Linked DNA regions of Homo sapiens: regions 1, 2, 3, 4, 6 and 7 are each reported to be linked to region 5. Evidence: microRNA targets listed by miRTarBase, many of them from high-throughput screens and not tested one by one. Region 5 holds a microRNA gene; each other region holds the end of a gene's coding sequence.

The links. Region 5 holds the annotated microRNA hsa-let-7a-5p (UGAGGUAGUAGGUUGUAUAGUU, at 1,624-1,645, shown strand). A microRNA usually pairs through its seed, bases 2 to 8, with sites in the 3' UTR of a target mRNA and lowers its output. Matches are read on the target gene's strand: a 7mer-m8 pairs with bases 2 to 8, a 7mer-A1 pairs with bases 2 to 7 and ends in A, and an 8mer does both.
Region 1: the mRNA of TMEM39A is a reported target of hsa-let-7a-5p. The part of its 3' UTR that is shown has no 7-base or 8-base seed match.
Region 2: the mRNA of SNX17 is a reported target of hsa-let-7a-5p. Seed matches in the 3' UTR shown: 7mer-m8 at 3,210-3,216.
Region 3: miRTarBase lists IFT56 as a target of hsa-let-7a-5p. Seed matches in the 3' UTR shown: 7mer-A1 at 2,219-2,225 and 7mer-A1 at 2,769-2,775.
Region 4: the mRNA of HUWE1 is a reported target of hsa-let-7a-5p. The part of its 3' UTR that is shown has no 7-base or 8-base seed match.
Region 6: the mRNA of NID2 is a reported target of hsa-let-7a-5p. Seed matches in the 3' UTR shown: 7mer-A1 at 3,521-3,527.
Region 7: the mRNA of UBAP2 is a reported target of hsa-let-7a-5p. The part of its 3' UTR that is shown has no 7-base or 8-base seed match.

The regions. Positions count from the first base shown.
Region 1 is chr3:119,428,166-119,432,241 of GRCh38, forward strand. It overlaps TMEM39A (transmembrane protein 39A), which reads right to left. Exons shown (of 9, transcript NM_018266.3): 9 at 784-4,049. The coding sequence ends at 3,816. Among named protein-coding and RNA genes, the nearest start is that of TMEM39A, 33 kb to the right of the region's middle.
Region 2 is chr2:27,376,276-27,380,341 of GRCh38, reverse strand. SNX17 (sorting nexin 17) reads right to left here. Exons shown (of 15, transcript NM_014748.4): 13 at 3,955-4,029; 14 at 3,822-3,863; 15 at 2,807-3,736. The coding sequence ends at 3,623. It overlaps ZNF513 (zinc finger protein 513), which reads left to right. Exons shown (of 4, transcript NM_144631.6): 2 at 94-249; 3 at 1,288-1,875; 4 at 1,971-3,107. The coding sequence ends at 2,797. Among named protein-coding and RNA genes, the nearest start is that of ZNF513, 2.4 kb to the left of the region's middle. RefSeq lists enhancers at 996-1,866, 2,481-2,640.
Region 3 is chr7:139,189,153-139,193,152 of GRCh38, forward strand. It overlaps IFT56 (intraflagellar transport 56), which reads left to right. Exons shown (of 18, transcript NM_024926.4): 18 at 169-2,834. The coding sequence ends at 280. Among named protein-coding and RNA genes, the nearest start is that of UBN2, 40 kb to the right of the region's middle.
Region 4 is chrX:53,529,488-53,533,555 of GRCh38, forward strand. It overlaps HUWE1 (HECT, UBA and WWE domain containing E3 ubiquitin protein ligase 1), which reads right to left. Exons shown (of 84, transcript NM_031407.7): 84 at 2,609-3,924. The coding sequence ends at 3,822. Among named protein-coding and RNA genes, the nearest start is that of MIR98, 25 kb to the right of the region's middle.
Region 5 is chr22:46,111,129-46,115,193 of GRCh38, forward strand. MIRLET7A3 (microRNA let-7a-3) reads left to right here and starts at 1,621; the gene lies at 1,621-1,694. LOC124905135 (collagen alpha-1(III) chain-like) reads left to right here. Exons shown (of 2, transcript XM_047441696.1): 2 at 1-2,800. MIRLET7BHG (MIRLET7B host gene) reads left to right here. Exons shown (of 5, transcript NR_110479.1): 5 at 1-2,800. It overlaps MIR4763 (microRNA 4763), which reads left to right and starts at 2,438; the gene lies at 2,438-2,529. It also overlaps MIRLET7B. RefSeq lists an enhancer at 1-182.
Region 6 is chr14:52,001,795-52,005,870 of GRCh38, forward strand. NID2 (nidogen 2) reads right to left here. Exons shown (of 22, transcript NM_007361.4): 21 at 3,943-4,055; 22 at 3,015-3,702. The coding sequence ends at 3,692. It overlaps RTRAF (RNA transcription, translation and transport factor), which reads left to right. Exons shown (of 8, transcript NM_016039.3): 6 at 4-72; 7 at 2,400-2,448; 8 at 2,568-4,076. The coding sequence ends at 2,722. Among named protein-coding and RNA genes, the nearest start is that of RTRAF, 14 kb to the left of the region's middle.
Region 7 is chr9:33,919,157-33,923,232 of GRCh38, forward strand. It overlaps UBAP2 (ubiquitin associated protein 2), which reads right to left. Exons shown (of 29, transcript NM_001370062.2): 26 at 4,030-4,076; 27 at 3,810-3,877; 28 at 3,531-3,722; 29 at 2,537-3,443. The coding sequence ends at 3,348. UBE2R2 (ubiquitin conjugating enzyme E2 R2) reads left to right here. Exons shown (of 5, transcript NM_017811.4): 5 at 1-1,243. Among named protein-coding and RNA genes, the nearest start is that of SNORD121B, 13 kb to the right of the region's middle.

The DNA.
Region 1 (4,076 bases), not on the chromosome of region 5:
CCACAGATTAAGGAAGTTTTCAGCCATTATTTCTTTAAATATGCTTTTTGGCCCCTTTAAATATGCTTTTCAGGCACCTCTTTCTCCTTCTCCAACCACTATTATGTGAAGGTTTGGTCTCTTGATGGTGTTCCATAATCTGTAGGCTTTAATTTTAGAAATTCTTTTGTTTTTTTTGCTCCTGGCTAGATAATTTCAAACGTTCTGTCTCCCAGCACACTGATTCTTTCTTCTTCTTGGCTGAGTCAGCTGTTGAAGCTTTCTGTTGAATTTTTCAGTCTCTTGAATTTCTATCCCATTCTTATTGTTTCTATTTGTCAACTTTCTTTTTAGTGTACTGTTTTCAAATTTCATTAAATTTTTTATCTGTATATATTAATAGTTCACTGAACTTCTTTATGGGTATTATTCTGAATTCTTTGTCAGTTATTTCATAAATCTCCATTTCTTTGGGGTCTATTATTGGAGCTTTATTAGTTTCTTTTGTAGGTGTCATGATTCCCTGATTCTTCATAATCTGTATGTTCTTGTATTGTTGTCAGTGCATTTGAGGAGACAGCCCCCTCTTCTGGCCGTTACAGGTGTTCTTGGGAAGGGATAGACCTTCACTATTTAGTCTATCCTATGATTCCAGAAGGGTCAGCTGATCAGTTAAGTGATGCTGATGCTGCTGATCTAGAGATTACTTTGGGAACTAGAAACCAGTGGATCATAAGTTATTCTTAGCTTATAATCTTTCATTAGCTGTCTTCTGTCTACAAAAGTTCCAAGACATCTGTCTGCTTATTTGAAGTACTTATGAAAAGAGCACTTTATTGGGCTTCACACTCAAGATTGTTAATAGATCTGATATCTATTACGTATCTCATACATATTTCTGTTAATGAACACCCTAGTGTGACAACTGGTTTACTTGTCTGTCTTCTATTAGTTAATGAACTCGAACATCACTATCTCCGGCACCCAGCAGTGTTTGGCATATAATTGCCCAGTACATAGAAATGAGATGCCTGGCTAGCTTAATAGAAATAAAAAAATTAATTAAAAAAAAGAGAGAGAAACGGCACAACAGGTGGCAGTGGTGGTGACTGATAGGGACAGGAAGGAAAGGAGGATTAGGAATATAAACATGGAATCAGAGTAAACAGGATATTGAGGAAAACTTCTGTCATGCTCATTCCTGTGAACTACCCTCCTCTACTCCTTTATTTACCCACCTTAGACCACCCAGACTAGTCAAGTATCTTCTTTCCTTTTCCAGTATCCCAGTTCACCCAACTGAACTTTTGCTATACCATGCTTTCCACAAACAATTTTAACTTGCCAACAAAGAATTACAAAAAAGGTCATTCTTTAATGATTACACATTTTTCTACTATCAGTGAGCAAATATAGTGTCCCTTCTGTTACATGAACTATAATAGGATATCCGGGTAACTAGTAATTTTTCTCTCTTCCATGAACGTGGCCCCTACAAAAACAAAACAACAAAACAAACAAACAAAAAACAGCTGGAATGTGTAGAACACGTTGAACTAAACGGTCTTATGCCCCGTATGCTGCCATATCTGGAGGTGAGGGTAGGAGGAACTTTGCAATTCCATTAGCCAAAATTAATTTTTATTTATTTCTTATATCCACTTACTTATTTAGCCAAGCCAGCATCTGGTTCTGTGCTATTCCCTTAGGATAGGACCAAGACAGATCAAGCCAGAAGGGGCATCATATTAGTTCATAAGACTGGTCTGTTATCTCTAATCAGGGTTTTCTGGGTTACTTTCCCAAGCTGGAGCCAAGTTGGGGCAATTTTGATGAGATATCTCTGTGCCCATGCCACCCATTTTGCTCTCAACTGCTGAGTAATCTCATGAAAATGTTGCTGCCAAGAGAAGCATATTTTCAAGATCCTACAGAAAGAATAGAAAGATGGCAGATTCCCTACCCTTCCCACCCCTACCTCAAGAACCACTATATTTAGGCTGAACTACTTTAAAAAGCAACTAACCTAATATATTTTCTTGCTATTCTTCCAATATACCAACTTGTCCCCACCTCAGGGCACTGCCCTTTCTGCTACTGTAACATGGAATTCTCCCCAAAGCTATTTATATGATTCAGTCTTGCTTTTTCTTTGCTTAAAAATCATCTCCTCAAAGATGCCTTCTAGCAGTGCTATTCTTACCACTATTTCCTTGTCCTGATTTCCCTTTGCTACACTTATCACTACTACCAGGGAATGTTATATTACACATAAATTTATTTGCTGTATTTTCTGCACCACCTAACTCCCCCACCCCCACGCATATTGTAAGCTCTGTGCAAGTAGGACCTTTGCATTTCTCATTCACTGCTATATCCCCAGGGCCTAATATAGTGCCTACTGGTTAATATATATTTGTTGAATGGTTGAACAGACTCAGACTGAATGCCAAATAATGTTAACTTAAAAAAAAAGTATACACATCAAAATATTTAAAGAAACAATTATTGATTTAAACATAAAACTGATATTGGGTACCTTGGTTTTACAAACACTCCTCACAATACTTCCCCTTGGTGAAGCCTTTCAGGAACTCTTCTGCAAGAATTATTTTCAGAGCCAGCTTGTCAACGACATGATTGGTCTTTTTACTTCATAAGTCTTATTTTGTTTCACCAAAAGCTTCACAGTGTAACAAACCAAACTCAGCACAGAAAACATATGACAATATATTTTAGATTCTCTAAGACAAGGTCTCATAAGTTTAGATGACAAGTGACAACATCAATGGACTAAGTATATCACCTCCCATAACTTAAAAGGCTAATACTCATAAACATGAAAGTTCTGGAGTATGAAATTTAAAACACAAATTTTGGATATAAATTATCTGAGTACAAAGCTGTAGGTAATTCTTATCTTTCACTTCCCCTCATAACTCCAAACATAACGCCATTGTAGGTGGGTTGCTGCTAGACTACATCCAAGATTGTTCAGCTGAGGACTTGCCCACTCTCCCAGTTACTTGGAATTTTCAACCTTCCCATACTCTAGCCCACATGGCATTTGCACTCAGCTTCTCCTACTGATCCAGCCACACATCATCTTCTTCATGAATGTGGGCAGTCTAAAGACTTCCTGTCTGGCAAAGTATTATTTCAAACAACTAAGAGGAAAATCTTTGGAAGCAGAAGTGGAAACACAGGAAAAGTGGCAGCAAAACCCTCAGCCTCAGGATAGTAGCTTATTCAAAAGTATATTTAAATGTCACAGGGTAAAATAGACCAGCTGAGTCCGTATCTTAGAAAGGAAGCCTACTGCTTTCTCCTGGTAGGCAACAAAGAGAACCCCACCTAGGACTTTAACCCACTCTTTTCCCAATGTATTCCAATACTATTAGCCAGCTGAACTAAAAGAGAATGGGTGCTGGTAGGCAACTCCATTGATCTCCCTTTCTTTAGCAATAAGTACTGGCCAGCTGAGGGCTAAAGATAATGAGGATTGAAAGAAAAGCAGACATACCAAAGGTACTGTGTCAAGTAATACATGAGATGTGTTCATAAACGAATGAGTTATTCCAGAGCCATACAAACAAATCAATCTCTTTACTGGACAGGCATACCTCTCATATGTATATTATTCGAATATACTAACACATGAAAGATCACATCACCTTGTTTACGGATACATTTAATATCCCTTACTCTTCCCGACTTTCAAAACATAATAGTATACAAAATATAAAATATCTTAAATATTTATAAAAATCACAAGAAAAAAATAGAACGTATGAAAATATTTTTATCTGAGTTCTCCCTCATTGTTGAGAGGCAGCTTAGTTTGCCTTGAGTTCATAACTGTTGAGTGGGTAGGAGTATGCCCTGCCTAATACTATTCTGTCCCGGAGAAGTTTAAATAAAACATAGTAGTTGCAGAAGAGGATGAGAGCCATGGAAAGTGTGTGGTTCCACTTCTCCGACCGCAGCAAGGAATAGAGCTGATAGAAGACGACACTGCCCTCAATAAGGATGAGCAGATTTAACAGCCTTAATGGTCGATGAAATAAGAACTGTAAGGAAGTTAAAAAAGTAAAACA
Region 2 (4,066 bases), not on the chromosome of region 5:
TAAGGGAATCAGAGTGGGTCAGCGAGTACGGGAAGTGTGGTCCACGAGGGCTGGTTCCTGAGGGAGAATCCACAAGCCCCCTCCCCTCTTCAGTGGATACTGAAGACTCCCTCGACGAAGGACCCGGGGCCCTGGTATTGGAGAGTGATTTGCTACTAGGCCAGGATCTGGAGTTTGAGGAGGAAGAGGAAGAGGAGGAAGGCGACGGCAACAGTGACCAGCTCATGGGCTTCGAGAGAGACTCGGAAGGTGGGTTTTCGGGTCTTGGTTAAGGATTAGCGGCCGCTGGAGACCCCAGCCCTTCAGGAGGCAGGTTAGGTGAACAGAACACCATTTCCTGCCACAACCGAGGGCTGGTTTAGTTTACATTTGAGCTAGATGACTTCATTTGTTTAATGGTCCAATCACTTCCATCACTTTGTTGAGGTGAAGTTCTGAGGCCTGGTCAAAGGTGATAGGAATAGGAGGGTGGGTGAATCACATGGAGCAACTGATTAAAAGTAAATGCCCTGTCTCTCTCCCTAGCCCATTCCTTATGTGTATTTACTTTTAAGAGAGGTTCAGGGAAGCAAACTCTCTGTAAATCATTCAACCCAGTATTTAGGTCTAATCTAACTCCCTTTCACCTGCAGCGTAAGCTCCTTTTGTATTGAGAGGTTTTAGTTTCTGTCTTTATCCTTCCATGTCCCTCTTCCCTGTGATCTTAGCATCACCCTACCCTAATTTGCTGCACTACCCATCCACTTATGCAAGATGTTTTTTGAAAGTCATTGAGGGGATCCATGTAAATATCTGTTCTTTAGGCAGGCAAGTGGTATTACATGCATTACTTTCATTGTCTCCACTTCCCTCCAAATTTTGCCTCAGAGATAGGTTTTATTTTATATCAGCTCCTTACTAAAAGGGGCCTTAGCAATAGAGCTTAGAAAAAGGTCTTGGGGGCTCTCTCCCTTTCGTATTTTTACTTTCTTGTCTCAAGAATTAATTTCATTATGGATTCATTTCAGTCTGTGATCCACTGTGAGCCCTTGATCCTTGACCATTGAGGGAAACTAGATACAGGTCAATTCTACCATCACTAGATTAGTCCAGTGTAAGAGGTAGACAATTCATGTTGAATTTTCTGGAATTACTGCAGGGGAGACCTTGATTCCTAGGAGGGAACTAAAGGGATCATCAAAGCTAAGGGTGGAGCCAAGCAAGTGGGGAGACCATAAGTGAAAAGGGGAGAGTTTGGAGCCTGATCCTACCCTATGCTGATGTCTCTTCTTATGTCTATTTCACCAGGAGACTCTCTGGGGGCCAGGCCTGGGCTTCCCTATGGGCTGAGCGACGATGAGTCTGGGGGCGGCCGGGCACTAAGTGCGGAGAGTGAAGTTGAGGAGCCAGCCAGGGGTCCAGGGGAGGCCAGGGGTGAGAGGCCAGGCCCAGCCTGCCAGCTGTGTGGGGGGCCGACAGGTGAGGGGCCGTGTTGTGGGGCAGGAGGGCCGGGTGGGGGGCCCCTGCTGCCCCCACGGCTACTGTACTCATGCCGCCTCTGCACCTTCGTGTCCCACTACTCGAGCCACCTGAAGCGGCACATGCAGACACACAGCGGAGAGAAGCCGTTCCGCTGTGGCCGCTGCCCCTACGCCTCAGCCCAGCTCGTCAACCTGACACGACATACCCGCACCCACACTGGCGAGAAGCCCTACCGCTGTCCCCACTGCCCCTTTGCCTGCAGCAGCCTGGGCAACCTGAGGCGGCATCAGCGTACCCACGCAGGGCCCCCCACTCCTCCCTGCCCGACCTGTGGCTTCCGCTGCTGTACTCCACGACCAGCCCGGCCTCCCAGTCCCACAGAGCAGGAGGGGGCGGTGCCCCGGCGACCTGAAGGTAAGACACACCAGGGACCAAAGATCTTGGGACATGGGTGGCTGACCCTAGGAATGCTTGGATTGGATTCATAGCCCAGGTCTTTGTCCCCACAGATGCTCTGCTCCTTCCAGATTTGAGCCTCCATGTGCCACCAGGTGGTGCCAGTTTCCTGCCAGACTGTGGGCAGCTGCGGGGTGAAGGGGAGGGCCTCTGCGGGACTGGATCAGAACCACTGCCAGAGCTGCTATTCCCTTGGACCTGCCGGGGCTGTGGACAAGAGCTGGAGGAGGGTGAGGGTAGTCGGCTGGGAGCTGCCATGTGTGGGCGCTGCATGCGAGGAGAGGCTGGAGGGGGTGCCAGTGGGGGGCCCCAGGGCCCCAGTGACAAAGGCTTTGCCTGTAGCCTCTGCCCCTTTGCCACTCACTATCCCAACCACCTGGCCCGGCACATGAAGACACACAGTGGTGAGAAGCCCTTCCGCTGCGCCCGCTGTCCTTATGCCTCTGCTCATCTGGATAACCTGAAACGGCACCAGCGCGTCCATACAGGAGAGAAGCCCTACAAGTGCCCCCTCTGCCCTTATGCCTGTGGCAATCTGGCCAACCTCAAGCGTCATGGTCGCATCCACTCTGGTGACAAACCTTTTCGGTGTAGCCTTTGCAACTACAGCTGCAACCAGAGCATGAACCTCAAACGTCACATGCTGCGGCACACAGGCGAGAAGCCCTTCCGCTGTGCCACCTGCGCCTATACCACGGGCCACTGGGACAACTACAAGCGCCACCAGAAGGTGCATGGCCACGGTGGGGCAGGAGGGCCTGGTCTCTCTGCCTCTGAGGGCTGGGCCCCACCTCATAGCCCACCCTCTGTTTTGAGCTCTCGGGGCCCACCAGCCCTGGGGACTGCTGGCAGCCGGGCTGTCCACACAGACTCATCCTGAACTAGGTCCTTCTTCCCCATGTTTTATACAGACGGACCAGAAGCCACCTTTTTCTCCCCCGCTGGCCAGGGGCTCCACACAGACTAACGTAGGCACTATAAGGACCAGCCCAACCCCATGGGCGGGGGGGCCCATATGGACCAGGGGACCTTGCCTTGACTGAGGCACTTCACGAGCTCAGTGAGAAGGGCCCTGTATTCACCTCCACTGCCCCCAGGGGCTGTGGACAAACCGGCTGGGGGACTGCCCAGCCTCCCACCTGTTTATTTAACTTATTTCAGTGCTTTATAATAAAGGAAACACTAACAAAGCCATGTCTATGCTGAATTGGCAATGGCAGGCAATTTGGCCTTACCCTTAGCATAGTAGTCCATGCTGTGATGGGGGAAGCAGGGGCAGTGAGAGGGAACCAGAGGTAGGCAGCAGTCAGGCTGAGTTTAATGATGGGGAACTGGGCCAGACCAAACACAGACCTCTGCCCATCCCCTTGGCCTTTGGCCCATGGCTCCAAGAGGCCAGAAGCGGCCCAGAGGGAGATATGGTTCCTCCCCAAGGCAGGCAGCCATGGTCCCTTAGACTTTGTGCAAAATACTAAATGCTAATTTGGCATCGAGGGCCAGCTCTGAAAAGAGAAGGGGCAATCCTCTGTGCAGCCAGCCCAGGGGACAAGGAAAGGTAGGATACGAGGCCCCTGGCCAAGAGAAAAGGGGTAGGTAGGAAAGAAGAAGGAAAAGACCCCTCCGCCCCTAGCATGGGGGACACAGGCACAGGGCAAGTTTCTGTAAATTCCTCTGGGGTAGAGGGCAGACATCCAAGCAGTGGAGATTACAGATCCTCATCTCCAATGCCCTCGAAGGCGAAATTGCCGTGGACATCACTGGCACTGGCATCTGTGCTGGGACTGCCAATTCCCCGCAAGCTCACGGCACTCAGCTTACTCTGTAACAAAGGCAGGGTGGGGTCAGAGATCTTGGGCGTGCAAGATCCCCCAACAAACAGCAACCTCACCAACGCTGGAACTCACTGAGAGTTTGACCATAGACTCCCGGGTGGCATCAGGTGACTCCTGGGGAAGAAGAGGCAGAGGTGTCAGAAACTCACTAGGAGAGGTGAGGCAGGGCTGAGAGCCAGGGTTCTGACCAGGAGGTAATACTTACAAGCAGTGGTGGGGACTTCACTGCTTGCTGGCTGTCTGAGCGTCTCAGAGTACCCCCCACCCGCCGGCGCAGCATCTGGGGACAGACACAAGGTGCCGGTGAGGGCAGGATC
Region 3 (4,000 bases), not on the chromosome of region 5:
AACATAAGGCTAGGCAGTTTGTAATTGCTTTGTGAATACACAGTGAAAGAGTCTATTACCAAAAATGCCCTACAAGACATACAGTATGAAGGACAGTTCAGAGTTTATTTTATTTTTTAATTTTCATTCTTCATTGAAACACTTTGTCTTTTCAAATCTTTTCCTCAGAGAGACCCTTCGAGAAGTGCTCCATTTACTGAGAAGCACAGGTAACACCCAAGTAGAATACATGATCCGGATCATGAAGAAATGGGCCAAAGAAAACAGAGTGTCCATCTAAAATAGCGCCAGCGTCCTAGGAACCAGCTTCTACTTTGACATAAAACTGGAAATCATTTTCACTCCAGTTTAATCTGTGATACAGGGCTCTGTTTTATTGACATTTTCCTTCCTTGCTCTTTAAGCCTCAAGGTCAGAGACTGACTTGCTGAGACTTAGTCTCCTGGCTGAACAGAGTGCCATAGTCTGTGACCCTGTATGATCCTAGTAGCAATAAGATTTTGGACTTATCTGGTGCCTTTCTTCCAAAAATGCTCAGAGTACTTTTATGCAATTTACTGACTTTAAGGAAAACAGTATAACTTTTTTTTGTTAGCATTTTATGGCATTGTCTCCTGGCTGCAATAACAAACATCTTTGATGTTCAAGAATCAGCATCATTGTATCATTTAACTTTAAGGCGTCTCTGTACGTTATCCCATTTTATTGGGGAATTCCATAAAGGGTTTTATAACGTCATCTCTGAATCTTGGGAGAATAACTAGCTATGTGTTTCTAAGAAAGGCAGTAAGCTACTTTATCAAACTGTCCAGTCATTAATAGGATAGATTTATGGGATTACTCTTTCAGTAATTAAATTGTTGATGATAATAACATGTTACAGCGCAGTAAGATGAGTATTGCAATGTTTTAAAAGGTGAGTACTATGAAAAAAATTGTAGTACCTCTAAAGGTATTCAAGAAACAATGTTTATGAATCTCACTAGTCCATTATAGTTTGGTACCATAATTATTTTAGGTAACAAAGCAGGTTAGGTTTTTGTTAATGTATCTTGCTTAACAAACATCAGTTTTTGTTGTTGTTGTTGTTGTTGTTGTTGTTGTTGTTTTTGAGACGGAGTCTCGCTCTGTCGCCCAGGCTGGAGTACAGTGGTGCGATCTCGGCTCACTGCAAGCTCCACCTCCTGGGTTCACGCCAGTCTCCTGCCTCAGCCTTCTGAGTAGCTGGGACTACAGGCACCCGCCACCGCGCCCGGCTAATTTTTTGTATTTTTAGTAGAGACGGGGTTTCACCGTGTTAGCCACAATGCTCTCCATCTCCTGACCTCGTGATCCGCCCGTCTCAGCCTCCCAAAGTGCTGGGATTACAGGCATGAGCCACCGCGCCTGGCCCAAACATCAGTTTTGAAAGTAGGGCTACAGTGATTTATATGTATTGTGGGCACTTATTAATGTAACGATAATAAAACATGAATCGTATAAAGTCCTTTGAGGGAATCTCCTAATGGCTAGGCTCTCTGTCGTAAGTCATATTCCAGCCCCAGGCTTCTGAGCTCTTATAACATACAACTGAGCATTCTTAAGCTCACAACCTATTTCCAGAAAAGAGACCCACATCTTTCTATGTTTTATACTACCTTTGTTTTTACACCATATAGTTTTTTTCTATTAGTTTAAGGTACCTAGTGTTACAGGTCTAGAAAGTGCAGAGCCATCCCTACCTAGAAGAGAATAGATGGGAAGAGAACTGAAAGAAAGAATTCCTCAAGCACTGAAGTCAGGAAAATCCCCGTAGGCACTGTATTAGTTGTTCCATTTATCCCAGCACTCCACTTGTGGATGAAGGAGTTGTATAGAAAGGAGATGAGAAAATGGCAGGAGTGGAAGCAGCCAAGAAGAGATCGATGACTGAAGATCTCCTTCACCTTCAGGACTGTCTCAAGGGGTTATTTCACCTCTACTCATGAGGATGGCCAGTTTTTCTGTCTTTTATCTTTAGACCCATATATAATCAGTTCAGAGCACAAATCAAAATAAACTGGCCTAAATAACTGAATTCTAGGAAGCAAAGCTACATCTTTTTTCATATGCCAAAGCTTCTGTTTCCTCATGTTGTTCCTACTTTTTAAATAATAAATGGCTCTCAGCATCTTAGGAACTAGATGGGTCCCATCTGGGTAGAACCTGCTATAATTTTTAGAATCACTCTTGTAATTCTTACCTCACTTAAAATATTAGGAAACACAGTAATAGAAAAGACAGGGAGAACTCGTCTGCAGGTTTTGGCAGTGAAATTTGTCTTCCAGTGAATTGCTATTATTTTCAAATTGCCTATAGTCAAAAAGCTTTTCCATTGATGGAGACTTACTTTCAAATGAGCTTGTGTTGAATTCAGCACTCTAGATTCTCTCTGACATTTTCCTGTCTTTTGGGAAAAAAAAGCAGATATTCCAAAAATGGCAGAAATCTAATTTTTGTAAACTTTTTCATCTATAGGATTGAGCCAAAAAACATACATACTATTTTAAAGAAAGGTACCATCTAATTCTTTTATTAAAGATAGCTACTTCTGAAATGTCTTAACAGAGTTTCAAGATTGCAAAGTAGTATTGCATAGCTGGTTTTCTTACATGTGATGATGGAGGAGAGAGGAAGACCCAGACTTAGGCATGTAGTGAAATATGTACAGTTTCTGGCATCAGTGTACTATTTATAGTCTATAGCATACATTACTTGCAAATGGGAAAAGTATTTTATAATTATTTTTGTACCTCAAAATAATTATTATATTCTACTGTATTATATTCAAATTAAAGTTTATTATTTGATTCTTAGTATGATATTCTGTTGAGTGTGATGAGGGTGGGACCTAAGTATGTCATGTGCCTTCTACCCTTTCTTTCCTAGCCCTAGAATGAAAGGAGAGAAAGTTTTGGGCCCCATAAGTTACTCTTTAGAAGAGAGAAAAGTACATATTCCCCAAGAAGCCCTTTCCACTAAGAGGCTGGTAGTTCCTGCTGAATCATACTAGGCTTGGCTCTTTGCTGAATTACAGCCCATTCAGAAGTTATATGACCAGTGCATAGTGTAGTACCTCACACATAGAAAGCTCTCACATACTTGTTGACTGAATAATTAAACATACAGTAACTGGTAGGGCAAGTGACTTGTGAAGTCTAACCTCATATATTCAGTTCCCATTGAATTATTATTTTATTGTGTGCTAAGCATATGCCAGGTACTTGGGCTGCAAAGATAAATAATGCACAGGCCTGACTCTCAAGGAACTCTAACAGAAGTATACACAACTAAACACAACAACGTGATTGATATCATCAGTGGGAATAAAGTATTGAGCAATAAAAGAAGGCAATGGAATGTTTGTATCCGTGTAAATGAGATGCCCCCTGCCTCATTTGGGAGAAGCAATCAGAATGGATCCCAAAGCTCAACAGCTAGCAAGATGCCCACAGCTCTGCCATGTGTGCCACACACATCACATGCATCCAAGTAGACGGAAGCCAAGGGACTGCTTTCCTCCTCTGTGGCTTAGTGCACTTTCAGAAAGGTGCTAGCAAACAGGCATGATATCACAATAGTTACATCTACTTTCTAATGGCAAAAATGAAGTAGTGATTTACTAGATCCTGTATTGAGAACATCTGTGTCTTAGATGAATAGTTGTCTTACGACTCTTTTCTTCATCCTATAAAATACTTCTAGGCTGGGCATAGTGGCTTATGCCTGTAATCCCAACACTTTGGGAGGCTGAGGTGGGAGGATCACTTGATGCCAGGAGTTCGAGACCAGCCTGAGCAACATACCAAAACCCTGTCTCTACAAAAAAAAAAAAAAATTTTAATTAGCCAGGTGTAGTGGCACATTCCTGTCATCCCAGTTACTTGGGAGGCTGAGAAGGGAGGATCACCTGAGACCAGGAGTTCAAGGTTATAGTAGGTACTTTATAATAATGTTCAAACAGTACTCCCGACTATTAAGA
Region 4 (4,068 bases), not on the chromosome of region 5:
CCCTGACGGTAGAGGTTGCAGTGAGCCGGGATCGCACCACTGCACTCCAGCCTGGGCAACAGAGTTGAGACTCAGACTCAACAAAGACAAAATATTACTTTAAAAGAAAAGAAAAAGGCCAGGTGCAGTGGCTCACATCTGTAATCCCAGCACTTTTGGAGGCTGAGGTGGGCAGATCACAGGAGGCCAGGAGTTGAAGACCAGCCTGGCCAACATGAAGAAACTCTGACTCTACTAAAAATTTAAAAAATTAACCAGGCGTGGTGGTGCACACCTGAAGTCCCAGCTACTTGGGAGGCTGAGGCAGGAGAATCTTTTGAACCTGGGAGGTGGAGGTTGCAGTGAGCCGATCATGCGCCACCACACTCCTGCCTGGGTGACAAAGCAAGACTCTGACTCGAAAAAAAAAAGAGAGAAAACATCACCAATGTAGTTGAAGCCCTGTGTAACGTGCCTCTTCCCAGCCACATCCCCTCTGTCTACCCCTGCATTGTCCCATAACTTATCCTCAACATTGTGCAAGATTTTATCATCCTCATGGTTTTTCATACTCTTCATACATGTTGCATGATTTTGCAACTTTTGAGCAGGTCTTATATGTATGTACCCTCCTGAAACTTTTTCTTTTTTTGAGATAGGGTCTCACTTGCTACCCAGGCTAGAGTGCAGCGGTATGATCTCAGCTCACTGCAGCCTTGACCTCTCTCCTAGGATCAAGTGATACTCCCGCCTCAGCTTCCCAAGTAGCTGGGACTACAGGCACGCACCACCACGCCCAGCCTGAAACTTTATCATTGAGATTGTGCATGTGATGTATGCAATTGATATTTTTACTACTGTGTAGGATTCCATTGTAGGAATTTGTCACAATTCATTTATGTTAGGTAATAAGTTTATGTGAATAGTTTGTTCATTATAGCCAAGTTTCTTGCTAGACTGTTTTAAGTTCCAATACTTTTTTTTTTTTAGACGGGGTCTCGCTGTCTCCCAGGCCGGAGTGCAATGGCGTGATCATAGCTCATTGCAGCCTCGATTTTTGGGGCTCAAGCGATCATCCCACCTCAGCTTCCCGAGTAGCTGGGACTACAGGTGTGTGCCACCATGCCTAGATTAAAAAAAAATTTCAGTAGAGAGGTCTTGCTATGTTGCCCAGGCTGGTCTTGAATTCCTGAGCTCAAGCAATCCTCCCACCTTGGCCTCTGAAAGCCTTGGGATTCCAAGCATGAGCCACCATGCCCTGCTCCAATAACTTTTGACTCCGTTAGCAAATGGTTTAAGTTATACCTTTTGTTTCCTGTTTTACTGAAATAGAAAACTGCAGAATAGCAGAACAGCACTAATAGTGATAATTAGCCACCTTATCTTTCAAGTGTGATGTTGGCTGTTGGTCTGAAACTACCTTATCAAGCTAGCTTTACCTTTAAAGGTTGCCAGGAATGGTTCTTGAATGTGAACAAATGCCTTGCCATCTACGGACAAAGATTTCTCAACTGACAATGAGGCGATTAATATTACACTACACATATCCCAGGGGCAAATCACACTTGATCATGCTCTATTTTTGTAGTATCCCACTGAATGAGATTTGCTTCCATTTCCCATAGGATTATTCCATCTGTACTCCCAGCTTCCACATCCAACCCCCAACCTCCAACCCAGGAACCCCCCCTTTACTTTCAAATTTAAATTACCTGCCAGACCTTTATTTCAAAGAACCAGTTAATCTTACTGCTTATTGACAAATTCTACTCTCTGCTTATTCTTTTTTTTTTTTTGAGACCGAGTCTCATTCGGTCACCCAGGCTGGAGTGCAATGGCGTGATCTCAGCTCACTGCAACCTTCGCCTCCCGGGTTCAAGCGATTCTCCTGCTTCAGCCTCCCAAAGTGCTGGGATTACAGGCGTGAGTCACGGAACCTGGCTGGGACTGGCGCGGTGGCTAGGACTGCCAGTAGCTGGGACTGCAGGCGCACGCCAGCACGCCTGGCTAATTTTTGTATTTTCAGTAGAGACGGGGTTTTGCCATTTTGGCCAGGCTGGTCTTGAACTCCTTATCTCAGGTGACCCACCCGCCTCAGCCTCCCAAGGTGCTGGGATTACAGGCGTGAGCCACCGCACCTGGTGTATCTCTTCCATTTTAAAGTCCTGCTGGACTCTAAGCAACTAAACTCCTCCTGCCTTGAATTATATGACCCCTCTCTGCTTAACCTCAACTCCTGCTCAGCTTTAGGCTGCAATCCAAGTGCACCGACGATGGAAAGCTTTCCCTGACTCTCCAGGCTAGGTCAGGCACTTCTATGTGCACTGAGACCCCTTTCTTCATCTGTCACAAAACTAATCACTGTCTTCGCCTCCCTACTAGAAGCTCAGTAACACGGATGGGGCAATTCCTCTGCCTTCTCAGTCATCAAAGCAGGGCCAGGCACAAAAGAGTGGGAACACTAAAAAAGGGGAAAATGGCTAGCAGCCTTGGCTCCAGGACCAGGGGATCAGGTTAAAGACACACCCTTTCTTTCCTAGACCCACACTTTGGGACAAGGTCAAGGGGACAATCTGTTCAGAGGTAGCACCCCAGGAAAATGAGAAAAACCACACAAGGCAAGCACCACTTGGGGTTATTTTTTCTAACTAAATTTTTATTAAATTATTTTTTCTTTGAAGGCTGGAACCATCGAAGTCCTTAGATCAGCTTTAAGCACTGGATGGAGTAAAAACCACAAGGGACTACAAGGTGATCTGTGAACAGACTGGCAGACAGATGACGAGAGAGGGAGTGACGACAACAAAAATAGACAAACAAAAATAATGGTCTTCTGGCGACCTAGTTAAATTACTCGCTTATTAAAATTTATTAGAAATAAACAAACATTAATGAAATAAAAATCTAAAACTGAGCCCCAGACTCAAGACTACTAGAAAGGCTCACCAAGTAAAACCCTCGGTTGGGTCAAGTGAGCTCTCTGAATGTTTTGTACAACCTGCTGCAGTTTGTTCCCCTTGAGCAAGGTGATGCTTTGTCCTGGGCTGCAATCTCTAACACCATCACCATCCCCAAGTGCAGCTCCCATTCTAAAAAAAAAAAACAGATGCCCCCACCCCCAATTCCTGGTGAACTGCTCATCTCTCCTGACTGCAGAAACTGACTCTGAAGGAGGAAGTTGCACCAGTGGTGGAGGCAGGTGGGCAAGCGGGTAGGGCAGGGATGGTTTCCTGGAGAATCCATCTTTTCTCCAGATGCCTAGCATGTGCTTAAGAGTTTTTTGTTTTTTTTTTTAAGTTTGAAAAAAACTCCATTGTGAAAAGTGAGTTATGAAGAGTGCTCTTTATTTGAAACCTCCACAACACAGACGCCAATCTTGTCTCGCATTGAATCATTAGCTGTGCACATCAACACATTCCAAGCACAAATTAAGAAATGCAAACAGAACAAAAAAATATATATATATATAATTTTTTCCCCTATCCAAAGGTTTCAAGTCTCAATGCAGCAAATCCTTCTGAACACAGAATCTGAGGAGCACACTGTTCAAACAGTTGGGACAGACAGGTCCCTGCAAAGGCTACTGCCTTTTTAAAACACATGGGGTGGGGATCATGGACGGCATGGAAAGGGGAGAGAAGGTGAGGAAACAGGCGGCGGGGAGAGAATGAGAAGAGGAACAGGTATGCGCTGGGGAAGATGGGGCAGCTGGGACACACACGGTGAGTTGGTGGATTTCATTTATTGGTTTTTGACAATTTCTTTCTGGTTCTTTTTTTAACTCCCCCCTCCCCAGGTCCAACAATGGTAAAAAAAACCCCACGGAGTTGGGCAGGGCCTTATTAGGCCAGCCCAAAGCCTTCAGAGCACTCCTGGATAGCCAACAGTAGCATGTGGCGGAGCTTCTCAAAGCTCTCATAGGCAGGCAGATCCAGCTGATTAAAACTAAGGAAAGAAGAAAGATCAGTTTGTGGTGAGGGATGACAGATAACCAAATCTGTGTGTTCCCATGGTGCCCACCAGCCCCTCCCCTCCCTGAAGAAACCAACTCCCTGCTTCTTGATGACTCCCAATCTTGTCTCAGCCCAG
Region 5 (4,065 bases):
TAGAGATTCAGCACCCCCTGAGCCTCAGTTTCTCCACTATGAAGTGGGATCCGTGATCTCAGCCTTACCAGGGCTGTGAGGATTAAATGGTCCAGCCCAGCCTGGGGCCTGCCTGGAGTAGGCAGCCTGCTCAGGATGGGCTGTGGAAGGAGGGCTGGGGTAGACCTTTCAAGTCCACTTGGGCATGGGGAGCTGAGAGCTAGCATGCCGTTTAACTTGGCAGGAAGCAGGCCGGGCGCAGTGGCTCATGCCTGTAATCCCAGCACTTTGGGAGGCTGAGGCGGGCGGATCACGAGGTCAGGAGATCAACACCATCCTGGCTAACACGGTGAAACCCCCTGTCTACTAAAAATACAAAAAATCAGCCGGGCGTAGTGGCGGGCGCCTGTAGTCCCAGCTACTCGGGAGGCTGAGGCAGGAGAATGGCGTGAACCCAGGAGGCGGAGCTTGCAGTGAGCCGAGATCGCGCCACTGCACTCCAGCCTGGGGGACAGAGTGAGACTCCATCTCAAAAAAAAAAAAAAAAAAAAAAAAAAAAGCTTGGCAGGGAGCAGGACATTTGGACCTCACTCTGCTGCCCCCTTGGCTGTGTGACATCCAGGTCACGTTGCCTCTCTGGGCCTCGGTCTCCTCACCTGTTTAAGAGGGGTTGACAGTCGTATCTGCCCCCTCAGCTTTTCCCCAGGAAGGTGGTAGCCACAATTAGCATTTGTTGAGGCTGACCCTGCACCAGGCCCAGGATAGGCGGGGCTTAGGGAGGCCCGTCTCTCGCCACGTTCCCCTGCTAGGGGAGCCCCGAGGCCCTCTCAGTGTCATCCTCATGCTACACTCTGTCCCAGCCCTGTGCGTCCCAAGCTAGGGCACTGAGTGTGCCAGCACCCGCAGGGACAGGCACTGGACCCTGGGTGGACCTGAGGGTCTGTGACTACCCCCCCAGCTGCTCTCCCCTAGAGGCCACTTCCCTCAAGGAAGGAAAGAACCTTCCCGCCACCTCCTGCAGTGCGGTCAGCTCAGGCCAGCCTGCACAGCAGGGCCAGAACCAGGGCCCCTGGGGAGGGATGCCTGCCTGCCCAGTGGGAGGAGACGGCACGCCCGTGAAGCCGCTACTCAGCCAGCCTGGGGGCCACGAGTGCTGCTTCTGGTGGCGCTGTGCGGGGAGGGAGGGGGCCGAGCAGGGTGGGCACTCGCATGCCTGTGTCTTGCTGGCCTTCGACAGATGACAGCCCTCCTCCTAGGGTCTCCAGTGCAGAGTTCCTTGGGGACATTATGGCCACTCCTGTCCAGATGAGAGGGAGCCGGCTGCCTGTGACAGCGTCGCAAAATGCCGCCAGGGCTTTCCCTCCCTCCTCCTTTCTCTCTTCCTCGTCCCTCTCTGGTTGGTGGTTTCCTGCAGGCTCCCGTCCCTGCTGGTGCTGGCCACAATGTCCCCACTCCCAGGGTTTCGGCGTCCCAGCCCCCTGCGCCCACCGCGCCTGCCCGCCAGAATCCCTGTGCCCTTGGTGCGTGTGGCCTGCCGAGCCTCGAGCCCCTGTTCTCCTCAGCCCTCTTTCCTCCCGCGTCCCCAGGAGGTGCCTCTGGAAGCCACGGAGTCCCATCGGCACCAAGACCGACTGCCCTTTGGGGTGAGGTAGTAGGTTGTATAGTTTGGGGCTCTGCCCTGCTATGGGATAACTATACAATCTACTGTCTTTCCTGAAGTGGCTGTAATATCTGCGGTGGACAGAGCGTCTGGAACCCTGGCTGGGAGCGGGCAGGGCCAGGTTTGGGGGCAGCCTTGGCAGCAGTCGGGGGCAGGGGCCGCCTACACTGAGAAGTCTGACAGGCCTAGGTGCCACTTGCTGTGTGACCTTGGACAGGCCCCTGATCTCTCTGGGTCTCAGTTTCCTCCTCTGTAAAATGGAGGCAAATGAGGATGGAAGGAGATGCAGTGTGGAGCATCGAGGGCAGAGGAGAGCTGAGCCGACCCCACCCTCTGCCCCAGCCGCACTGAGAGAGGCGATCCACGCAGCTGTTTGTCTGACCTCTGTCTCCCAACACTCCCCAACACTCCCCCCGCCATCAGGCCCAGGCTCATGGGTGGCCCTGAGCCGTACCCTCCACTGAGCACCAGGAGAAGGCACCGTGGGGCCAGGGGTGGCCGAGACGTTTGGAGGTCACAGGGCTGCGAGTATTGGCGTTGCCCATCACCCCAGGTTCCCAGCACGTGCCCCAGCCTGGCCAGCTCAGTGGCAGGGCCTCTGCCTGTGGAGGAAGGGAGGCCAAGGCACCTTTCCTGAGCAGGAAGTGAGAGGAACAGCTCTGCATACACTGGGTCCCACATGGCACAATCTGAAGGCAGACAGTGGCTCCTCTGTACCTGGGGAAACTGAGGCCCAGAGAGCCAGGGACTTCCCAAGACCAGCCAGCAGCAGCTGCCCCTTCCTGGGGTGCCATCTCCCCTGTCCCTCCTGCCCTGCGCCTGCCCAGCCCTCCTGCTCTGGTGACTGAGGACCGCCAGGCAGGGGCTGGTGCTGGGCGGGGGGCGGCGGGCCCTCCCGCAGTGCAAGGCCGGGCCTGGCGGGGTGAGGTAGTAGGTTGTGTGGTTTCAGGGCAGTGATGTTGCCCCTCGGAAGATAACTATACAACCTACTGCCTTCCCTGAGGAGCCCAGTGACACGACCCCATGGGAGGGCCGCCCCCTACCTCAGTGACACGACCCCACGGGAGGGCTGCCCCCCACCTCAGTGACCTGCAGGGGGCCTGAGCCGAAGCTGGGTGGGCATCTGGGAGCTAGATTCAATAAAGCTGTTCTGACCATGAACTTGGAACTGGCCCCTTTCATTCTGGAAGCCCAGGGACTGGGCTCTGGGGCGCGTCTGCTGCGGGACAGTGTGGAGGCCCCTGGCCACGAGCTGTTCCAGGTCATGAGACTTGTCTGCTCACGCCTCCCGGTGCCTCCAGAGTCCTCAGTTGGCTCCGTGCTGTACCCTGGGCTCAGGATCCCAGGCCCAGCCCGTTCTCTGCCCTCTCGTGCTGCCTTTGAGCCAGGCGGGCTGAACACCGGGACCCAGGCCCGGTGGAGAGGTCCCCACGGGGCAGCCACCAAGGCCCCAGGTCAGCAGCTCAGAGCACTGCCAAGTCCTGGCTCCTGAGGCCACCTCCGTGCCTTAAGTGCCTTGACCAAAGTCTGGACGTGCCTGTCCTTCCGTCCTCCCTCAGGACAGTTTCCAGGGCACCCGTAATTCCTCTGACAGACTGCCATCCCAAAAGTGCACCCATTCTCCTGGGAGGCCTCAGGCCCTCGTCTAGCAGCTGCCGTAGGCTGGGCCCAGTGATCCCGCCCTGGGCATGTGGGGTGGGCTTGTTCATGCCTGGCCCAGCACCGAGAGCCCCTGGTGGGGAGGGGCTGATACAGCTGGGCCCACACCTCCCCCACCCAAGTGCCCATCCTCGCCCCTCCTGTTGACCCAGGCCACAATCTTGGCCCAGATTCCCCCCTGTGCCCTCCTGGCCTGCCTTGGTTCTGCAGGCAACCCCAGCCCTGCATGGCCACGTCTGGGCAGACCGGCACCCCTACCCTGACACCCATCTGTGCCAGTCCTGCACGGCAAACACCTCAGAGCCCAGGCCTGCCTACCCTCCCGGAGCTGCTGCCACCCTGTGGGCCAAGGGCAAAGGGACGTGGAGGAGGGGCCCAAGGGCAGGGAGGGCTTCCTAAAGCAGGGACCATCTGAGCTGGGTCTTGACAGCTGCGTAGGAGTTTGCAGCTGGAGATGAGTGACGTGCCCCATGGTCCCTTCTCCCATCATCCTCTGGGGCCAGAGTGGGTGACACATGGGCACTGTCCAAATCCCCTTCTTCACCCCATAATTAGTCAGCAGCCACATCTGGCCACTTCTGTCCTCTAAACACCATTTCCATCCCTCCCCACTCCCACTGCCAGGCCTCAGAGTCTCAGAGCAGCCCCCTCTGTCTCCGGAGCAGATCTCTGCTGACACCCTTGCCTGCACTGCCTCCCAGCACCCCTCCCTCATGCCTGTGCTCACCTCCACCAGGACTCTCCTGCTCACCACCGCTCCCCCACCC
Region 6 (4,076 bases), not on the chromosome of region 5:
TAGGCAATTCGGATTTTGGTTCAGGAGCGCCTGACACAGGATGCAGTTGCTAAGGCAAATCAAACAAAAGAGGTACGTTTCTATAAATCCTAAATAAGTTGTTAATGAACATTTCTTCTGGTATGGCCGTGATTTTAAACTTTGCATGTATCTGTTTAAGATATCCATTCTACGTTCTACAACTTAGAGAAAGGATAGCTTACTTCAGTGCTTCCTAAAGCAAATTGAATGTATTCAGTGGCTAGGGGGTCATTTTTGAGTGAAAAACTTCATGTTCCTCTCACTTTGTACCTTAAAAAAGCCACAAATAGCTCATGCACAGTCCACAAATCATGCTTGTGGCCCGTTGAAGTTTATTTAAAATGAGTTACCCATATGAAACTTACTGGATTATTTTGACTCATGCTGGAGAAGAAGGAACACACCTCACTACAAATTAGTTTTCTTTTTCTATCTAAATTCTATCCTTGCTCTTATTTCTTCAGAGTAAATTCTTGTTTTATTCAATTTCCTGGCATAAAACATGAGAAAGTAATTTGGCTAAGGTCACCTAGTTGGTAAGTGACTGAGCTCAGGCAGTCTGACTTGAGAGCCTGTGCTCTTACGGTAGGTGGGGAGAAGGGTCCATGCGTGGATGTCTGCATGAGCTTGTCAGTCTGCCCAGGTGAAGGGACAGGGGGTTCTGTTGGAGTGTAAGGTTCAAGGTACAGGTGACTGAAATGGTATCTTTCAGTCCTACCTTGTAGGCTGAGAAAAGCTATATCCCATGACTACCTTCCCCTTAAAGAGAAAATATGGAACATTTTTAGATTATATCAGAAATCCAAAGATGCCTAAAGTTTCACTGGCTGTGCAGCGGTGGAGAGACTGTCCTCAGGTCAGCAGCAGCAGTGTCTGATAACACCTGCCTCCTGCAGCAATGATGTTGTAGTGAATGCCTTGGGCACAACTATGTTGTTTGTCCTCCCTGCGCCCTTCCCCCATCTCCCAATGCCTTTTGTCCTCCAGCCCCTTTAGGCAGGCCAAGCAGTGTTAAAAGGTTACTAATGCCAGGGCAGTATCTCTGAAAGACACTGTTTTCTTTTAAAGGTTCTTACTGGCTCGTTGTATATGAATCGAGCCACTGGAAGTTGGGTTAAAGATCAGCTTATTTCACCCTCCCTATAGAACAGACAGTAAATTGTTCTGGTGTAATAAAGTCAATCATTCATTCATTCATTCCTTCAGCAAAACTATGCTTTGGAAGGCAGTGTAAGTAAAGGCTTAGCCAAATCTCTTTGCTCTTGTTTGTAAAGTAAAATTTAGTTTTATTTTTAATGCTCCCAATTTTAATTTTGGTGTCATCTCAAAAGATACCAGCCTATAACAATTTAGTGGAGTTCTTACAGTCTAGTGTACTTATAAGCATTTATAACTACTATTTGAGGCATATGGTAGTTTTCAGGGGTAGCTTGGTGGCCTGTTGGCAAAGGAAAAAAAAGTGGAGCCTCTGGTACTAGATGAACATATAAAGCCACTCAGTACAATTCTGCTCTTTAATTTTGCTCACTTGTGCTTTCGTACCCATTGGTTTCTTCAGACTTACATGTGTTAGCTGTTTTAAAGCAGACAGAGCCTACGTAGATTTACATTACTAGATAAGGCAAGAATTGAGCAGTGACTAAAGCATTTGAATAGTAACAGGTTGTAACATTGAAAGATTGAAAGTACGGGTAGTGTGTTTTTCTTGGCAGTGATTTTATATAATCAGCAGGAAGTACAGACTGTCCTCATTTTAGAATTTGTTTCTGTGAAGTTTGGCATCACCATAGTCACCATCTTTAGTATGTCCATAGGTGCTGAGTGGTTTAGTTTTTCATTTTCCTAGACTGTTTGTTTCAAAGTAACTTCCAAGTCAAGTCTTGAAAGTTAAATTATACATAATTATACATAATCTTGGCAAACACCATGCTGGCTGAAAGGTTCGTACAATTTGTAAAGACAAATTAATGTGCTCAGAAATGGAATATAAGGTACTATTTTTGCCGTTTATACTGTTGCTTACTGTCGCCAAAATAAGACAGTAACAGCCTGGCTCAACTTGCCTTCCATAGCAGTAATGACAAGGCACTGCTGCAATAAGGATATATTGTTTTGTATGCCTGGGCTAAAGGATTGGATGAGCTATAGAGCTTCCTGGTACATTTAAAGGTTAACTTTTCCCCCTAACCGGTTGAAATAGGGAAAACTCGCTAATCACAATCATCACAAAGCAAATATAAACAAAATTCCTAGTTCCCTTGCCCATGCAGCTAAAAGAGTTAAGACACCAGAATAGCTAGGTGCTTTTCAGTTTCAGTTGAGGAAAGGATGCTATTCTTAACCATAAATACTCTCATTTTGTCTTTCTTTTTTTAAAGGGCTTACCTGTTGCTTTAGACAAACATATTCTTGGTTTTGACACAGGAGGTAAGTGATTTTGTTTAAATTCAAACTATTTTTTTTACAGACTGAATACTTGGGAGGAAATAAATGGCCTTAAATGTAAAAATTATGTATTGAAGCAGTGTTCTTTTCTCATAAAACAGATGCAGTTCTTAATGAAGCTGCTCAAATTCTGCGATTGCTGCACATAGAGGAGCTCAGAGAGCTACAGACAAAAATCAACGAAGCCATAGTAGCTGTTCAGGCAATTATTGCTGATCCAAAGACAGACCACAGACTGGGAAAAGTTGGAAGATGAACACTTGAGGACTTCAGCTTCTCACCTACTTAGTACAGTTGGGAACCATACACTTCTGGCATGTTTGGAAATCAAAATGTCACATTCTCGGGGGAGGAAGCCCAGAAAATTGGGTATGTTCTAGAGATTTACCACCATTGCTTATTGCTTTTTTCTTTAATAAAGTTTAGGAAAGTAGAATTTTTATTATGTACTGTATGTTTGCATAAATCACCTTTCTCCTTTGTGGTTAAGGCATATATGCCAACCCCCAGCTTTGTCCTAGAGACAATATAGATCCTTAAGTCATAGGAAAACTTAAAACACTTTATTGGAGTAATCTAGAAAATTTTAAAATTGTTACATCTTTGGTATTTATAAATGTGATACTTTACTTTCTGTGGGTACTTCTATAGAGGCACTACAGGATCAGAAAATGCAAATTGAATCATTTTAGCACCTTTTGATATAAATAGAAATGCACTGATGCAGAGGTAAAAAATCTTAGAACTTTTGTTGGGAAACTATAAATAATTGGTCCTTTCCCATCAGTTCTGCATTGGCTTCTCCAACTGTCAAGGTTTAGGATTATATTGTTATATTGATCACATGTGCTTTAATTTCTTGGCCAGAAGGAATCCATGGCAAAAATCAGGTTTAGAGTCTTAAACTCTAATTCTTAGTTGAATGAATTTGATCTTTTAAATATTAATGATAAATGTTTACAAGAAGTTGCTTTAATAAGCAACAGTTAAAATTCTGTTACCTTTTTAAACTTGCAATAACAACCTTCATTTTTAAAAATACAGTAGTAAAGATTGAGGTATCAGCTTTTCACAAAAGTCTTTTTGCACTACAAAATGTTCATCTTGGATGCTCAGGAACGTCTAATGGCCAATTCCTTTTTTACTTTCTTTGCCTTTGCAGTCACTGTTCTTTAGGGTCCAGGTTCTGATTGTAAACTCCAAGTCTTCCTTTACATTACTGTACTTACTTTCTTCCTGTGAGAGAAGAGCAGGGGTGGGACAGGGTGGTGGGTGAGTATATTGTAACCAAGTTGCAACAGCAAGTCTTTGCATTTTGTGTATAAACTAGGTAGATTTAAGGTAGTAAAGACTGGCCCTCAGGGCAGGAAGAAGGCAATGGTGGCAGTGTCACAGGCAGCAGGGGTAATCAAATACCATATATATCCCTTCTCTACCCTGCTAATTTAAAGGAGCATCCTAAAGCATACTTTTTACCTGTTGGGCAGTAGGGGTAGACTGCAGTTATCCCGTAGAGGTGAGATCGTTGTTCTGGGAGATACTCATCAGTAAACTGGCCACTATGTTTATTTACTGATACAACACCATCCCTGGTAACAGAAAGGAAGAGT
Region 7 (4,076 bases), not on the chromosome of region 5:
TTGTCAAGTTACCTGATTACAAACTCTCATAGATGTTGGAACTACCTTTTTACTCCCCATACTTTGTAAGTAATGCTTCCAGATTAACCTGCAAATCTTGTGGAGCCAAAGCCTCTCACAGTGCTGATTTACCTCCCCCAAAATGCCCCCAAACCCCCATGCAAGTTTACAGCCAGTAGCTTGGTCTTATTCTCTTGGAGCCCTAAAATTAAGCCTTTCATTCCCCTTTGCTAAAGCATCTCACTCCCAGGGCAGCCCCAGCACCCTGGCATTGCGGGAGGTGCTCTGCTGCACAGCTGTTCCATCAGGCCCTATTGGCCTCTGTTAGACATTGACTCAGGGAGCCGGAGCGCCAAGTGGAGGTTGTACCTTTCAGCCCTTTGGGGTGTTAAAAGTGTCAAGGGCTGGGTTTGCCTCTGATGAGTACAATCAGTTCCAGAAGACTGGGTAAGTCTCTTGCTAGCAGGTGGACATTCTGGTATTTTAGACTGACTGAACGAAACCCAGAGGCTGGTTCCAGAGCTCTGTCCCTGAGAACACATCCCTGTGGAAAATACTTGAGTTTGTAATTTTTTTTCCCCCTTCTGGGAGTGGAGGTCTCAGGCTCAATCCGGAACCATGTACGTACAGTTTTGCTTATTATTTGATGTGACATGAACTCAAAATCCTGCATTTTTAGATTCCTTTTAGTTCTAATTGAGGCCTCACTAGATGCTCTTCAGTTCTGTGTATTTTGAGGCTGGGTGGAGAAGTATATGATTCTGCTGTTGATTCTTTCAGTCTTCCCCCCTTCTCCTTTTATCAATCATTCCAGAGTTATTTTCTATTAGTCAAACTTTTTTGTAGAACCTTCTTTCCCTTACCCTGGCAAATTGCTTCTTTACTTGCTGGTTTCCTTACGTTTGGGGCACATGTTGTAAGAAACTGATTGGAAGGGGAAATGTGCAGCTCTCCACTGGAAAGGAACTCTCCACCCCTCCCATCCTGATAAAACAAACAAGGTTTACATTTACAACTAAAAGGATTCAGATGCAATTTTCAACTATTCTGAAACCAGCAGGACACACCTGACTTTAATAGTTTTAGCTGAAATTGTAGATGTTTTGCTTCAGTTTAACTTATGAGAAAAGATTATCTGACGGATTTTGTGTTGACTTCCCCTTTAGTGGTTTATTTTGTCTTTTTCTGCCCATCTGTCTACTAATAAAATGTGAAATAAAATACCTGTATTGCTACTTCCCCATGAAATGACCCTCTTCTTTTTTTACCTTGTGTTAAAGAAAACTAAAAGGTGGTCTCATTATCACTGTTAAGTTTGCAGATTACGCTGGGGCTCAGCTGAAAAATTAGACAAAAACCAAAACTGGGGAATCTGCCTTTCTAACTAACTCACCTCCCTGGTGTATCCCCAGTCCCTTCAAGCTCCTTATAGACGTAGCCATTTGTTAAACTTGATTCTGAAAACGGGAGCTGATACAAGTAGGTCAGTGAAGGATTGAGGGGTGCTCTGCTGCTTTCCTTAGGCAAACATTTTCACTGTCATTTGTTTTCCTAACTTACTGCTGCTAATAGCAGGGATCAGGCAGATCACCCTATTTAATAAAAGTCCTAATTTTACCTGTAGACACTTACCTTTTTTCTAGGTAAGGTCCCAAGCTGTGGGTTAATAGGAGTATCGGTCCCATCTGATGACAGGACCATCGCTCTCAATTGTAGAGGCCAAAAGCAGAAAAAGTAGATTGTGACCCCAGGCTGGTTCTGACACAATCAATCAATCAATCACCTGACTAGCCATTTTATTTCCTCCTTTAACCTGATCTGAAGCAGCGATTTAGGAGTGAAAAGAGAGGCTGTAGCACCTTGGGCAACACTTCTAGGCCCTGAGCTTCCTGCCTGCTGGATTGGAGCACAGTTGTGGTTGGCCAACAGGAGATCTGCCTCCTTCCTATGGCCCTTGGTTACTCCCTGGCTTCTGACCTGACACAAGGTGAATGGTTGGTTGGGCTTTTCTGGAGCAGATATGTAGCCCCGGATCCACCAGCCTACCTCATGACACCCTCACTAGTCACGTGTTCTACCATAGCTTTTGACTGCCAATCAAGATTATGTTCAGTTGATGACAAGCAAAAGACAGGTATACCTGTTCATACTCTCCCTTAAGGCCTAGAACCCTGCTCTCAGTTCTTGGCTTTGCTTCAGATTGTAAAAGTCCACTGAGATTTGGAAAAGAAATTACCCTGCCCTGGTATCCAGTGGACAGGGCTCTGTGGGACACTGCCCTATCCCTAAGTCTCTTAAGGAGCTATAAGAAAAGCCAGGTTAACTTTGATCAACATGGCCTGGGCCCTGTAAGGAGGTTTAGCTGTCCTTACAGCCATTGTGATTTGGGCCAAGAGGGTCCAGTAAAAAGGAAAACCATTTCAAGCCTTTATAGCCTGTGTCAGAAGACTATGACCATGTGGGATCTCCTTTAGCCCTGTGAAGTCCAGGGCTTCTGCCCTGAGCTGCCCTTCAGTCACACCACACAGAGACCATGCATGCTCTCAGAACTTTATTAGGTGGGGATTGGGCAAGAGAAAACCCCTGAAACAGTTGCCCACGTGGTTCAAGACAACTAGAATGGAGATGTGTTGCTTGGAGATACCTTAGATTTTTAAAGGGGAGCTGACTGGCTGAATAACTCAGATTATTTTTTTTTTTTTCATGGTCAGCCAGTCTCTAGTAAGTCTCTAGGGACATGACCAGACCAGAAGCCCCTGTTCTATATGAAGACAAACAGGTGGCCATACTTGGGTGGAGGGATACCGCTGCTATTCCCAGATGAAGATTTGGTGGAAGGAGACCATGACAGATGACAAACGGAACAGTTTCTCAAAAACAGAGGTATGAAGTAATTACACAGGAAAGAAAACAATTTCCAAAGGAGTGAGACAAGTCGTGATTCTTCATTGGTACCTGACCCCTATACCCAAACAGCCTTGAACCAGCCCTTCCAGAGACTGCCCCTAGTGGCCCACTGGGCAGTGCAGGCTGTGAAGAAGACCTGAAGGCAGATGGGGTGGGGGTGCTTATTTTGCTACAGTGGAGAAGGGGCTTGAATGGGGAGGGCAGACCTGGCTAACATCTGCCGCCATCCCCCAACTCCCCCCCAGACTTCTATCACATTTACAAATACATACATAAATACATTACATACAGTAGCCAGTCTGGGAGGCAGACTCCCCACAGAGGCATGGCTGACACATGTCGGGAATTCTAGGAAAGGGCACTGGGCTCCCAAATACGTGCTCGTGTGTTCTCTCCTGCCCAGGATAAGCCTTGCCCCAGCCCACCCCTCTCTTCTGGGTTTAGTTTGTCCAGTATGGAGAGTTGCCGTAGGCAGGTTTGGAGGCTTGAGACTTGGGCTGCAGGGAGCTGGGCTGGCTGCGCTGACCCGAGCCACTCTGAGGAAGAGGAGAAGGGAAGGCTGTCAAGGCTGGAGCAGAACCCCTGGCCCAGAGTAGGGTGGCTGCCTCCATCACTGTACTCACCTGTGCATCCTGCGGAAGGTGGTGGTGCAGCAGCTGTGAGTGGGGCTGCTGGTGGGCTGGCAAGATGTGTAGGAATGGTGGGGGTGCATAGCCAGGGGCCGCTCCCGAGGCCAGGGGCCCAGTGGAGCCCAAGACCGAGGGCAGGCTGAAAGGTGGAGGCGTCCCTGCATGAAATCCCTGCTTGTCAAAAGTCTACAGGGCAAAGAAGACAATGGTGAAGGTCAGGTTGGGCTGTAACCTCTCAAAAACCTATACACCCAACCCACCTTTGTCCCTCACCTGTGTCTTATTGTAGACAGAACCAGTCATATCAGGTAGACCAGTGGTGCTTGAAGACACTGATACTCCTAGGAGGAAAAGCAGTTGTTCCCCACAGCAGTTGTTCCCAGCTCCAGGCTCCCCACCTCCAGGATCACTCAGGGGTTGCCCTGCCTGAGAGGGGATCAGGCAGGAGCCCACCACTCCAGGCCTTATCCTGGAAAGGAGAGGTAAACACTACCTTTGCCAGGCCCAGAACCTGCAGACTTGTTTGGTGCCTGCGATGAT